Homo sapiens: one gene and its partners. The protein of the gene in region 2 purifies or fractionates together with the protein of the main gene of each other region. This does not show direct contact. Each region holds a gene or a part of one and is shown on either strand. Other genes may lie near its edges. The genes, in order: ACP3, DUSP21 and MYO1B.

Evidence for each region.
Region 1: the proteins of DUSP21 (region 2) and ACP3 purify together in Homo sapiens (affinity purification with mass spectrometry; 2 studies listed by BioGRID and IntAct, with this or other methods). This does not show direct contact.
Region 3: the proteins of DUSP21 (region 2) and MYO1B purify together in Homo sapiens (affinity purification with mass spectrometry; one large-scale study listed by BioGRID and IntAct). This does not show direct contact.

What each region holds. Positions count from the first base shown.
Region 1 is NC_000003.12:132,344,846-132,348,503, forward strand, and holds part of ACP3 (prostatic acid phosphatase isoform PAP precursor), read left to right. Parts: intron 1-81; coding exon 82-214; intron 215-3,658. UniProt on the Homo sapiens protein: A non-specific tyrosine phosphatase that dephosphorylates a diverse number of substrates under acidic conditions (pH 4-6) including alkyl, aryl, and acyl orthophosphate monoesters and phosphorylated proteins.
Region 2 is NC_000023.11:44,842,505-44,845,530, forward strand, and holds DUSP21 (dual specificity protein phosphatase 21), read left to right. Parts: upstream 1-1,516; 5' UTR 1,517-1,628; coding exon 1,629-2,201; 3' UTR 2,202-2,384; downstream 2,385-3,026. UniProt on the Homo sapiens protein: Protein phosphatase component of the sperm flagellar doublet microtubules. May act as a regulator of sperm motility by mediating dephosphorylation of sperm doublet microtubule proteins.
Region 3 is NC_000002.12:191,412,814-191,416,471, forward strand, and holds part of MYO1B (unconventional myosin-Ib), read left to right. Parts: intron 1-1,234; coding exon 1,235-1,367; intron 1,368-1,703; coding exon 1,704-1,856; intron 1,857-3,301; coding exon 3,302-3,429; intron 3,430-3,658. UniProt on the Homo sapiens protein: Motor protein that may participate in process critical to neuronal development and function such as cell migration, neurite outgrowth and vesicular transport.

The DNA of each region.
Region 1 (3,658 bases), on a different chromosome or scaffold from region 2:
GTGAGGTGAAAAAGGATAAGTCAACAAAGAGGACAGTCATATAAATACACATACATTTTTCTTCCTTTTTCTTTGCTACAGAGTGTTCACAATTTCACTTTACCCTCCTGGGCCACTGAGGACACCATGACTAAGTTGAGAGAATTGTCAGAATTGTCCCTCCTGTCCCTCTATGGAATTCACAAGCAGAAAGAGAAATCTAGGCTCCAAGGGGGTAAGTATTAAAAAATGAGAGGAGCATATTGGATTTGTGGTTGAATGATCCAGGTCTGAGTCATTCCCTCCACTAATCAACTGTGTGATCTCAGACAGTTCACTTAATCACTCTTGCACCAGCTTCCATTCTGCAAAATGGGGATATTAATGATACCTACTTCATAGACAGTGAGTATTAAAATGAATGTATGTATTCAAATGGCTTAGAGCAAACAGTACCTGGTACATAATACACTGTCAATAAATGTCATATGTTAGTATAATCATAACTATTACTCACTCAAGCCCTTAGTTTTCTATCTGGAAAATGAAAGCTAAAGCTAAATGATCCTTTCCATCCCCTCCAGATCAAAAATCAAGGATCTGTGTCTGAGCCACATGAAAATCAATTGTGTCTTGTGGCCTATATGATGAATTTTTCAAGTGGGAGGTATGACAAAAGTGGCCTGTTTTCCTGAAACCCTGAGTGGTAGTCATTGTGAAAGCCGATAAAATATATTTTTCAGGCTAATTGTTATATTTTTCAGACCAATTATGTGCTGTTAAAATATGTTGCAATTGACAAGTTTATAACACAGCTTGAAATTTTTCATTGACATTGAAAGCTGTTGAGATTTATTTATCAGTGATGCCTCTTCTTGGTTAGAACTGGCTCTTCGTAGCACAGGACACCCTGTCATATGAAGGCAGACCCAGGCAAGAGGATGCTGGATTCTTGTAATCAGGATAAGTGGATGGAAGAAAAAAGTCAGGACCAGCAAAGACAAGGACAGATGTTGGGGCTTATGAGAGAAACTGGATGGGCAGGCCAAGATACCAAATGAGGTGTCAGACTTAGATGTGGTTATCATAGGTATTAAAACTAGGGATAAAGAAGAAGAGAAAGTTCATCATGTCAGGTTGACGTAATGAGGAAAGTCCAAGCCACAGGAGATGGTCCAAGTCAGGCTGACACACATATTCAAGGCATTTTGAGATTAATACAATCACATCATGATTCCAGCCATTGACAGACACTATTCACCACAGCATCAGGACAAGTCCATCAAAATCCCAAGAGAATGCATAGAGGCAAAGCATATTAGGGCTGGACCAGACTGGGAGGTTGTTCACTGAGGCTACTTAACTAGGGAAAAAATTCAAATCACTGACCAGAAAAGGAATCAATTATAGCTAGAAAAGCAGGGCTGCACACCAGGTATAAAGAGTGAGGCAAGCTGTAACCAGGGGAATGAGGTATGAAACCAGGATGGTCAGGAGCAAATTCATGTGAGATGAATAAAGTAGGTTGGGGCAAAAAATTTAGGACAGTGGCCATTAACGACATGAGGTTGTTGTAGATCTGCTATTACAAAAATCCTGATTGCATGGCACAGAGACAGACTTGATAGAAATGTGCAAGTCCTTACTTCACATTAAACACATGAGCAACAAGATCCAGCCTTGAGGAAGGGAGAGTCTCCAGAGAGGAGTCTTAGATGGAAGCTGGAGTGTTGGAAAAAATTACCAGGCGGGATACAGACTGTGTCTATGGGCAGAACCCAGGAAGAAGCTCAATCTTAAGTGCTTAACAACAAAAGATGTAGAGGGTGCCTTGGAAGCCACATAAGCACTCAGCCTCATTTCTGGCCCACCAGGTGCCAGCAGTGTGACTCAGTTGCAAGCCCCATCAAATGGTGGAAGCGGGACTCTTGATTTATTTCCCCCAACCTAGTTATGGTGGATTCAGGCACCTAGTCCCTCACAACTCAAAGTGCAGTCTACTTTTCAGCATCGGCATCAACTACCACCTGGCTAGAAACACAGGCCCCACTCCCAAACGAGTTGAATCAGGATCTGCATTTGAATAAAATCCCAACATGCTTTATACCAGACAGGAGTTGACAGTAGTCTAATAGTAGATGTAGGGATGTGTATGTATGAATAAGAAATGGAGTTGCTCCACTTTCCTCATGTTTCCTCTTTTATTTCCCTTGCCTACTAGAAGATTACATTTGGGAGAAGCCACTTCCCCTCTCTGGATCTCTGTTTCACTACCTATGAGGAGATTAAACTAGACTGTCTATAAGAGTCCTTCTCTGAGTTGTTCTCTGATCTTGGATTCTAAAGGCTGGCACTTGTATGAAACCAGCTGTCCTGCTTTCTGGAAAAAGTCCAGCGCCATTGTTAAGCAGGAAAATTTCTCCTGTGTGGTTCTGCCAAAACAAAAGCTCAGACTATTATTCAGATCTGGCTGGGCAAGAGAGATTTGTCAACTACATGTTTATTGAATGATGAAACAGCTGCACACATTCCTGCACAGAAAACACACATTGTCTAGGTGACAAAGAGTAATGTGGACACATCAGGGCCATCTTCTGACCTTTGCTAGTTTTTTTGTTAGTTTGTTTTGTTTTTGTTTCTTTGTATTTTTTGTTTGTTTTTGTGTCTGTTTTTGAGACAGGGTCTCATTCTGTCCTCCAGGCTGGAGTGCAGCAGCATGATCACGGCTCACTGTAGCCTTGACCTCCCAGGCTCAAGCGATCCTCCCACCTCAGACTCCCAAGTAGCTGGGACTACAGTCATGCACCACCATGCCCAGCTAAATTTTTTTTAAATTTTTTGCAAAGACAGGGTCTCCTTATGTTGCCCAGGCTAGTCTTGAACTCCTGGGCTCAAGCGATCCTCCACCTTGGCCTCCCAAAGTTCTGGGATTATAGGCATGAACTACTGTGCCCAGTCTAGAATTTTTATTTCATCATTTAACTTCAGGGGTGACACTGTTCAGTAAGACACACACACATACACACACACACACACACACACACACACCAAAAAAATCCCTGGGGCAAATTTAGGATCATATGGCTGGTCATATCAGTGAAAAGAGAGCTCTTCTTGCTCTAGGCCAGAGGTTGGCAAACTACTGCCTGTATGCCTAATCCAGCCCACTACCTGGTTTTGTAAATAAAGTTTTATTGAAATACAGCCACACTCATTCATTTATGCATTGTCTATTGCTGCTTTCATGCTACCACCGCAGAGCTGAGTAGTTGCAACAGATTTTTTAACCCACAAAGCCTAAGACATTTACTCTCTGGACTTTTACAGAAAAGTTTGCCAACCTCTGCTGTAGACTAGAAATGAAGGAAGCAAAGTTTATGTCTTCAGGTCAATGATATTTTTGTCTAGTTTACGAAGATTTAATAAAGGATACAACAGATAACTTTGAAGCTAGCTTTCCACGATAGCATGTTCTAATGATTACAAATAAAGGTTTTGACACAGGACATGCTAGATTTAAAGCCCTCCTTCTCTGCTTGCAAGTTGTATAATCTAATCAAGTTTCTGAGCCTCTCCAAGCCTCAGTTTCCCCTATAAAACAGAATATTGATATGCCAGAGCCTGAGGATAATCATGATAGTCACCCCTAATCACTCCTGGGATAAGGGTGTAATCATAC
Region 2 (3,026 bases):
GATTACAAAGCTTCTCCGTTAGCCCAGCTGAGCTGCCCCCAACAAACAGTTTTCATATTTATTTAGTATTCGTGTTCTATTTTCTTCCAGATAGCTTTGTGGGGACTGACAATTTAAGTAATGCAAAATAATTTGATTATGACAACTGAGAAAAGAAACGTGTGTTGTGTTTTGAGGTTATCATTTCCTTGACCATCATAAGCAGCCTGGTATCTATTTCATCTTTGTTCGTAATCACAGCACACCTTTGAACACATACCAAAATGATGATGGAATGAGAGCAAAGTATGTGAGTCAATTGGCTACTCTGTGAAACAATTTGTTAGTTTTAGGCTATAGTTCTTTTCAATTTTCAGCCAAATTCTATAAAAATCTTAGCTGGAAGGAAATGCAAATGTCAGGTTACATTTTAGAAATTAATTTTTGGGCTGAGTGCTGTGGCTCGTGCATGTAATCCCAGCACTTTGGGAGGCCGAGGCCGGTGGATCACCTGAGGTCAGGAGTTTGAGACCAGCCTGGCCAACATGGTGAAATCCTGTCTCTACTAAAAATACAAGAATTCGCCAGGTGTGGTGGTGCGTTCCTGTAATCCCAGCTACTCGGTAGGCTAAGGCACAAGAATCACTTGAACCCAGGAAGCAGAGGCCTGGGACTCTCCAGCCTGGGTGACAGAGCAAAACTGTCTCAATTTTTGGCCCAATTACCATGTAGCATTAACTTGTTTCAGAATGTTTAATATTACTGGGAAGACAGCATCGGTAGTGGTCAAAGTGATTTGTAGTTCACAAAGCATGTAGGCATTTTTTTTTGAAGAAAGTAAACAAAATAATTTGAACTGTTGTTTCAGGTAATAAAATAGACTCATGCGGTAAGTCATTTGAGCTGTATGTACAAATGGACTATGACACAGCTAAATTAGTCACAACTGTCCACCACAGGCCAACTTCAAGATAAAGGGCTATATATCAGTTAGCAATGCTCTCTTACAACCAGCCCTGATGTGTTTGTAAGCAGGAAAATAATTTTATGGTTACAATCAACAAAGAAGTATCAGGCCAGTCCACCAAGCCCAGCCAAATCCCATATCTCGCTCCAGTTTTATAGAGATTAGCATATCACATGAGCCAAATGCTGTTCCCCAACTTAGAATGTGATATTGCTATTTTGCAGGGAAAGTGTAAGCCCTGTTCTGCAACACTGATGAAATAGAAGTATTCATAGATCTTGTTTAACGTGGTCCAATAATTGAAACATAAAATAGATATCTTGTAACAGAACATTTTTAAAAGTCAAGAAAGATAAGAATTAGGCCTTGGAAAATAAATGACTATGAAGAAAGATAAAAAGAAAAGAGACTGGGGTGTCTCTGAAGACCCTGCTTAGAGGCCCTGTCCTCCTTGCGGCAAGCGGCCATTGCCATGGAAACCGGAGCCGCAGGGCTATCTGTCCGGGATTGTGACGCCCAGATGGGAGTGGTGAGAGGAGACAGAAAGAGGGTGGTGGCCGATAGCTGGTCCTCTTTCTCCAACACCTAGCCTGAGACTTGGCGGCGCGGCTGCTATCCTGAACTAGCTTGGTAAGTGTTGTGTCCCGAACCAGCGTAGAGAGACCTCGGACCAGCCGCCTTGATGACAGCATCCGCGTCCTCCTTTTCATCATCTCAGGGTGTCCAGCAGCCCTCCATCTACAGCTTCTCCCAAATAACCAGAAGCTTGTTTCTCAGCAATGGTGTGGCCGCCAACGACAAACTCCTTCTGTCCAGCAATCGCATCACCGCCATTGTCAATGCCTCGGTGGAAGTGGTCAACGTATTCTTCGAGGGCATTCAGTACATAAAGGTGCCTGTTACCGATGCTCGTGACTCGCGTCTCTACGACTTTTTTGACCCCATTGCTGATCTTATCCACACCATCGATATGAGGCAGGGCCGTACGCTGCTGCACTGCATGGCTGGAGTGAGCCGTTCCGCCTCACTGTGCCTTGCGTACCTCATGAAATACCACTCCATGTCGCTGCTGGACGCCCATACATGGACCAAGTCGCGCCGCCCCATCATCCGGCCCAACAACGGCTTTTGGGAACAGCTCATCAATTACGAATTCAAGCTGTTTAATAACAACACCGTGCGCATGATCAACTCGCCGGTAGGTAACATCCCTGACATCTATGAGAAGGACCTACGTATGATGATATCAATGTAAGCCATCCCGGCCAGCCCCTGACATCTGCCATCGATCTTGCACCAAGACTGAACTTGAACACTGACATTTTGTTAGTAAAGAAAACCGGATGGTGCCTTGTTAAAGGGCAAGAAAAAAGGGAGGGGGTTGGAGTTTTGAACGTAGTAAGCCTTACCTTAATAGAATTAAATTCATGAAACATAAGATAGTGAAAATATTTTTTATATTGTGAGGTCAAGCTATTGGGGCCTGGCTGGAACCAGGGTGGGGCAAGTAATGCTCAGCTCACATAGACCTGCCAGCAGCACCCAATACATGTGGCAGACCTGGAATCCTGAGCCCTGCCAGAGGCTGACTAACCCAGGAGTGAATCCCCTAGAATCTCACCCGGTTCTTTCCAACCCAAAGTCAAAGCCTTAGACATCTTGGCATCCCTTGCACTTCTCCCAGTAAGTGCCAACCTAGTGGATAAGTGGCTTTCATTCAAGCTGTGCTCCAGGAGCTCTGGAGGAGTCTCAGGCTACCCTTGCCCACCTTCAATCACAGTGGCCCATCTCTGGTTTTCTAGATCGGATTTATACATTAGTTAAAAAAAAAAAAACTAGTTTTTTAAAAGACCATTCCACTCCATAAAGTTTAAAAATATTGTATTTTTTTGACTGCTGTACTTGATGGCAAGTTCTCAAGGTGTCTTTGGTGATCTCCCACCGGCCTTTGTGAAAAGGGACATAGTCCTTTTCCCAGGGCATATACTGAGAGAGAACAGGCCTGACACCAGGCCTCAGGGGTTCCTCTCATGAGCCTTGGCTTAAGAGGCTGGAGCTGCTGGCCATGACCCAGCCCTGT
Region 3 (3,658 bases), on a different chromosome or scaffold from region 2:
GTTAACCTTTTACAAAAATTAGTTTGTTTGGGAAAAAAAAAATTGCCCTGATTCTGAATGTTTGCTTTGGTTACTTCTGTCCATTTAGAGGCATATTCTAGGAGAAGAGGCTTGATTCTCCTTTCATATACAGATGCTGCTTAACTTATGATGCAGTTACACACAGATAATCCATCATATGGGTTATGAGTGATTTCTATCTTGATTGTTCCATGTGATGAGATTATTATCAAAGTCCTGCCCACCAAATGCCATGATCACCTCAAAAATATATTTGAAATAGGTTTAAGGTTTCATTTCCAACTTATATTTAGGACAGATGCAAGCGTAATGTATAAAATAAATTGAAGTCAATTTTTATGAAGTTGTCATATGTCATATGAAGTTGAAAATATCATAAGTTGAAAATGCATTTAATACACCTAACCTACTGAACACAATCACTTAGCCTAGCCTACCTTAAACATGCTCAGCACACTTACATTAGCCTACAGTTGGGCAAAATCATCTAACACAAAGCCTGTTTTATAATAAAGTGTTGGATATCTCATGTGGTTTATTGACCACTGTACTGAAAGTGAAAAACAGAATGGTTTATGAGCACCACTGTAAAGCTGAAAAACCCTAAGTCAAACCAAGTCAGAGACCATCTGTATTGCCTACTTAGAACCACAGTTACATGTTAATATTAAGTGTTCTATAGTTTTCTTCTAAAGTGATTGCCCTGGATCTGTTCTTTCCCAGAAGGCCTATTGATTTTCTTATTCTCTGCAAGAAATGAAATTTTTCTTTAGAGCAGGTGATGGTAATGATTTCAGCTCTTTTCACTGCCACATATTGTTTGAAGGCGTTAGTAAATCCTTTGTGAGCAGCTGTTAACTTTATATTAACAGATTAGAAGAAATTGCCTTTTCCTTCACATGAGGCCATGTACTTGAGTCTTAGCTGTTGTTCTTATGAGTGATTTCTGTCTTGATTGTTCCGTGTGATAAGATTATTATCAAAGTCCTGCCCACCAAATGCCATGATCACCCCAAAAGTGTATTTGAAATAGGTTTAAGGTTTCATTTCCAACTTATATTTAGGACAGATGTAAGTGTAATATATAAAATAAATTGAAATCAATTTTTATGAAGTTGTCAGCTACTCCTTAGAATCAACTGACCTGTTTCCTTTTTTTAGTGGTACTTTCATTTGAAACTATTTCTAATGTGCAGGAATTTTTTTCCTTTAGTGTTGGGCAACCATTCCAAGGGGCTTACCTGGAAATCAACAAGAACCCCAAGTATAAGAAACTCAAAGATGCCATTGAAGAAAAGATCATCATTGCTGAAGTCGTGAACAAAATTAACCGTGCTAATGGGAAGGTAAAAATGCTAACCTTGAAGACTGATAAGAAGTACCTATTAGTTGGGATAGTCACCCTGTTTTCTGAATGTAAAAATTTGCATTTCATGTTCTCAGTAGAGTTAACTATGAAGGCGGCTATTTCCCCTTACCTTTAAGCTTAGGTGGAATTTTGCTTGTTCTCTGACATTTTTATGAAATAAAACATATTATTTATGTTCTTTACTGCGTTCTTGGTTTACATAGGTATGTTTGTTGAAGGATATTGGAATTTTTGCAAATAATGCCTTAAACTCATGGACCATTTTTGAGTATTTGTGATCATTGGTTTTATACTATTTTTTATTTTGATTTAGAGTACATCTCGGATTTTCCTCTTAACAAACAATAATCTCCTTCTTGCTGACCAAAAGTCTGGACAAATCAAGTCAGAGGTTCCATTGGTGGATGTGACCAAGGTATCAATGAGCTCACAAAATGATGGCTTCTTCGCCGTCCACCTCAAAGAGGTAAAGGTTCAACAGAAGATTTCTGTGCTTAATCTCTCAGCCATTGATTTAAAAAATTTCCATATCTGATAATCCTATCGCAGTTTATATATCTGCCTTGCTAATTTGCAAATTTTGGATATTCACCCCTATGTAAAATCTCCGACTCAGTTTTTCAGTAATTGAATAAAGTTAATCACTTTTATTGGCCAGTTTACTTTACTTTTTGAGACTAATACATAGAAATATCAAGATGTTTTAAATTTTGTTTTCTCCTGTTTTTTCTTCTATGTATCAACTTAGTAAATGTCTTAATGTTCATCTCTAATCTGGGGGTTTACATTAAAGGATACAACTAAAATAAAATAACCGCCAGTTAATTTTAACCTAAATAATTTTTAGTGTTCTGTGCCTTTAGCTTAACCAGGACTCCTGGCTTGGATGCAGTGGTTACATGTAGGTTCTGGAGTTGGTCTCACTCACTTTATGATAATTTTGGCCAAGGCATTTAATTTGTGTGTGCCTACCTACTTTTTCTCATCTTTAAAATGGGGATAGTAAGAGTGCCTACTTCATAGCATTGTTGTAAGGATTAAGGATTAAATGAGACACTGGAGGAACAGGGCCTGTCACATAACACATAGTCACTGAATAAACAAAAGTTAACAAATATTGATCATATGTAGGGACATGTGTCTAGCTAATAATGTTACTCTCTGGCCAACCCTAAACTTAGAAAAATCCCCAAAGCTTCCCTTAGCCTGTTTACCCTACTTTGGATCTTAACTTAAAGGGGGCATATCAAATACTAGGACAGTGATTCTCAACCTCAGTGACACATGTAAACAGCTTGGGAACTTTAAAAATTCTGATGCCCAGGCCATACCCCTATGAAATCAAATTAGAATTTCTCAGAGGGGGCACAAGCATCATGTTTTTTTTTTTGTTTTGTTTTGTTTTTTTTTTGAATAAACCCAGATGATTCCCTTGCACAGCTAAGGCTGAGAGCCACTGCCCTAGGATATTTGTTGGAAGTGTTGTCATTAGGGTTTTAACCAAATCACTGAAAAGTTTTTTAATCAAGTCCTTCAGAAGAGTTGCGGGATAGGTCCATGCTCCTCAAACCTGAATGTGTAAACCCATACCTGGAGGTTGCGTTGTGGTTTCATATTCACTGGGGCTGTGGTAGGGCCTGAGATTCTGCTTTTCTAGCAAGCTCCAAGTGATGCACATGGTGCTTCTGCTGCATCCACCGACTTTAGGTAGAAGGGGATTAGGTAACCTTACTAAAGTGCTCTGAGCAAGTTGGAAGAAACACTGCTTTTGTCATTATTGTTTACCTTGGGAGAATGGATTCCAGGATCTGATGTTTTAAAGAGACTGTAAGTATGTTTTTAGCCAAGCCTGTAAATATTGACCTTCTAAGGTATCTTTAATTATGACCGACTCTTGGTTTGTCCTTGCAGGGCTCAGAAGCAGCTAGTAAAGGAGACTTTCTCTTCAGCAGTGATCACCTGATTGAAATGGCCACCAAGCTCTATCGCACAACTCTCAGCCAAACCAAACAGAAGCTCAATATTGAGATTTCCGATGAGTACGTTCATGTATTGTTTGAAAACCCTTTTTCTCTTTCAGCTTTTTTGTTTTAGTTCAGCTCTCGATCTCATTCATTAATACAACTACTTATTAAGTACCAGGTATGTGTCTAGTAGTTGTTCCACATGATAAATGGGCAGTGAATGACACTGACCAAGTCTCCAACCTCATGTACCTGACATCCTAGTGGAAGAGACCAGTATGTACAAATAAAATGATGAAATAGT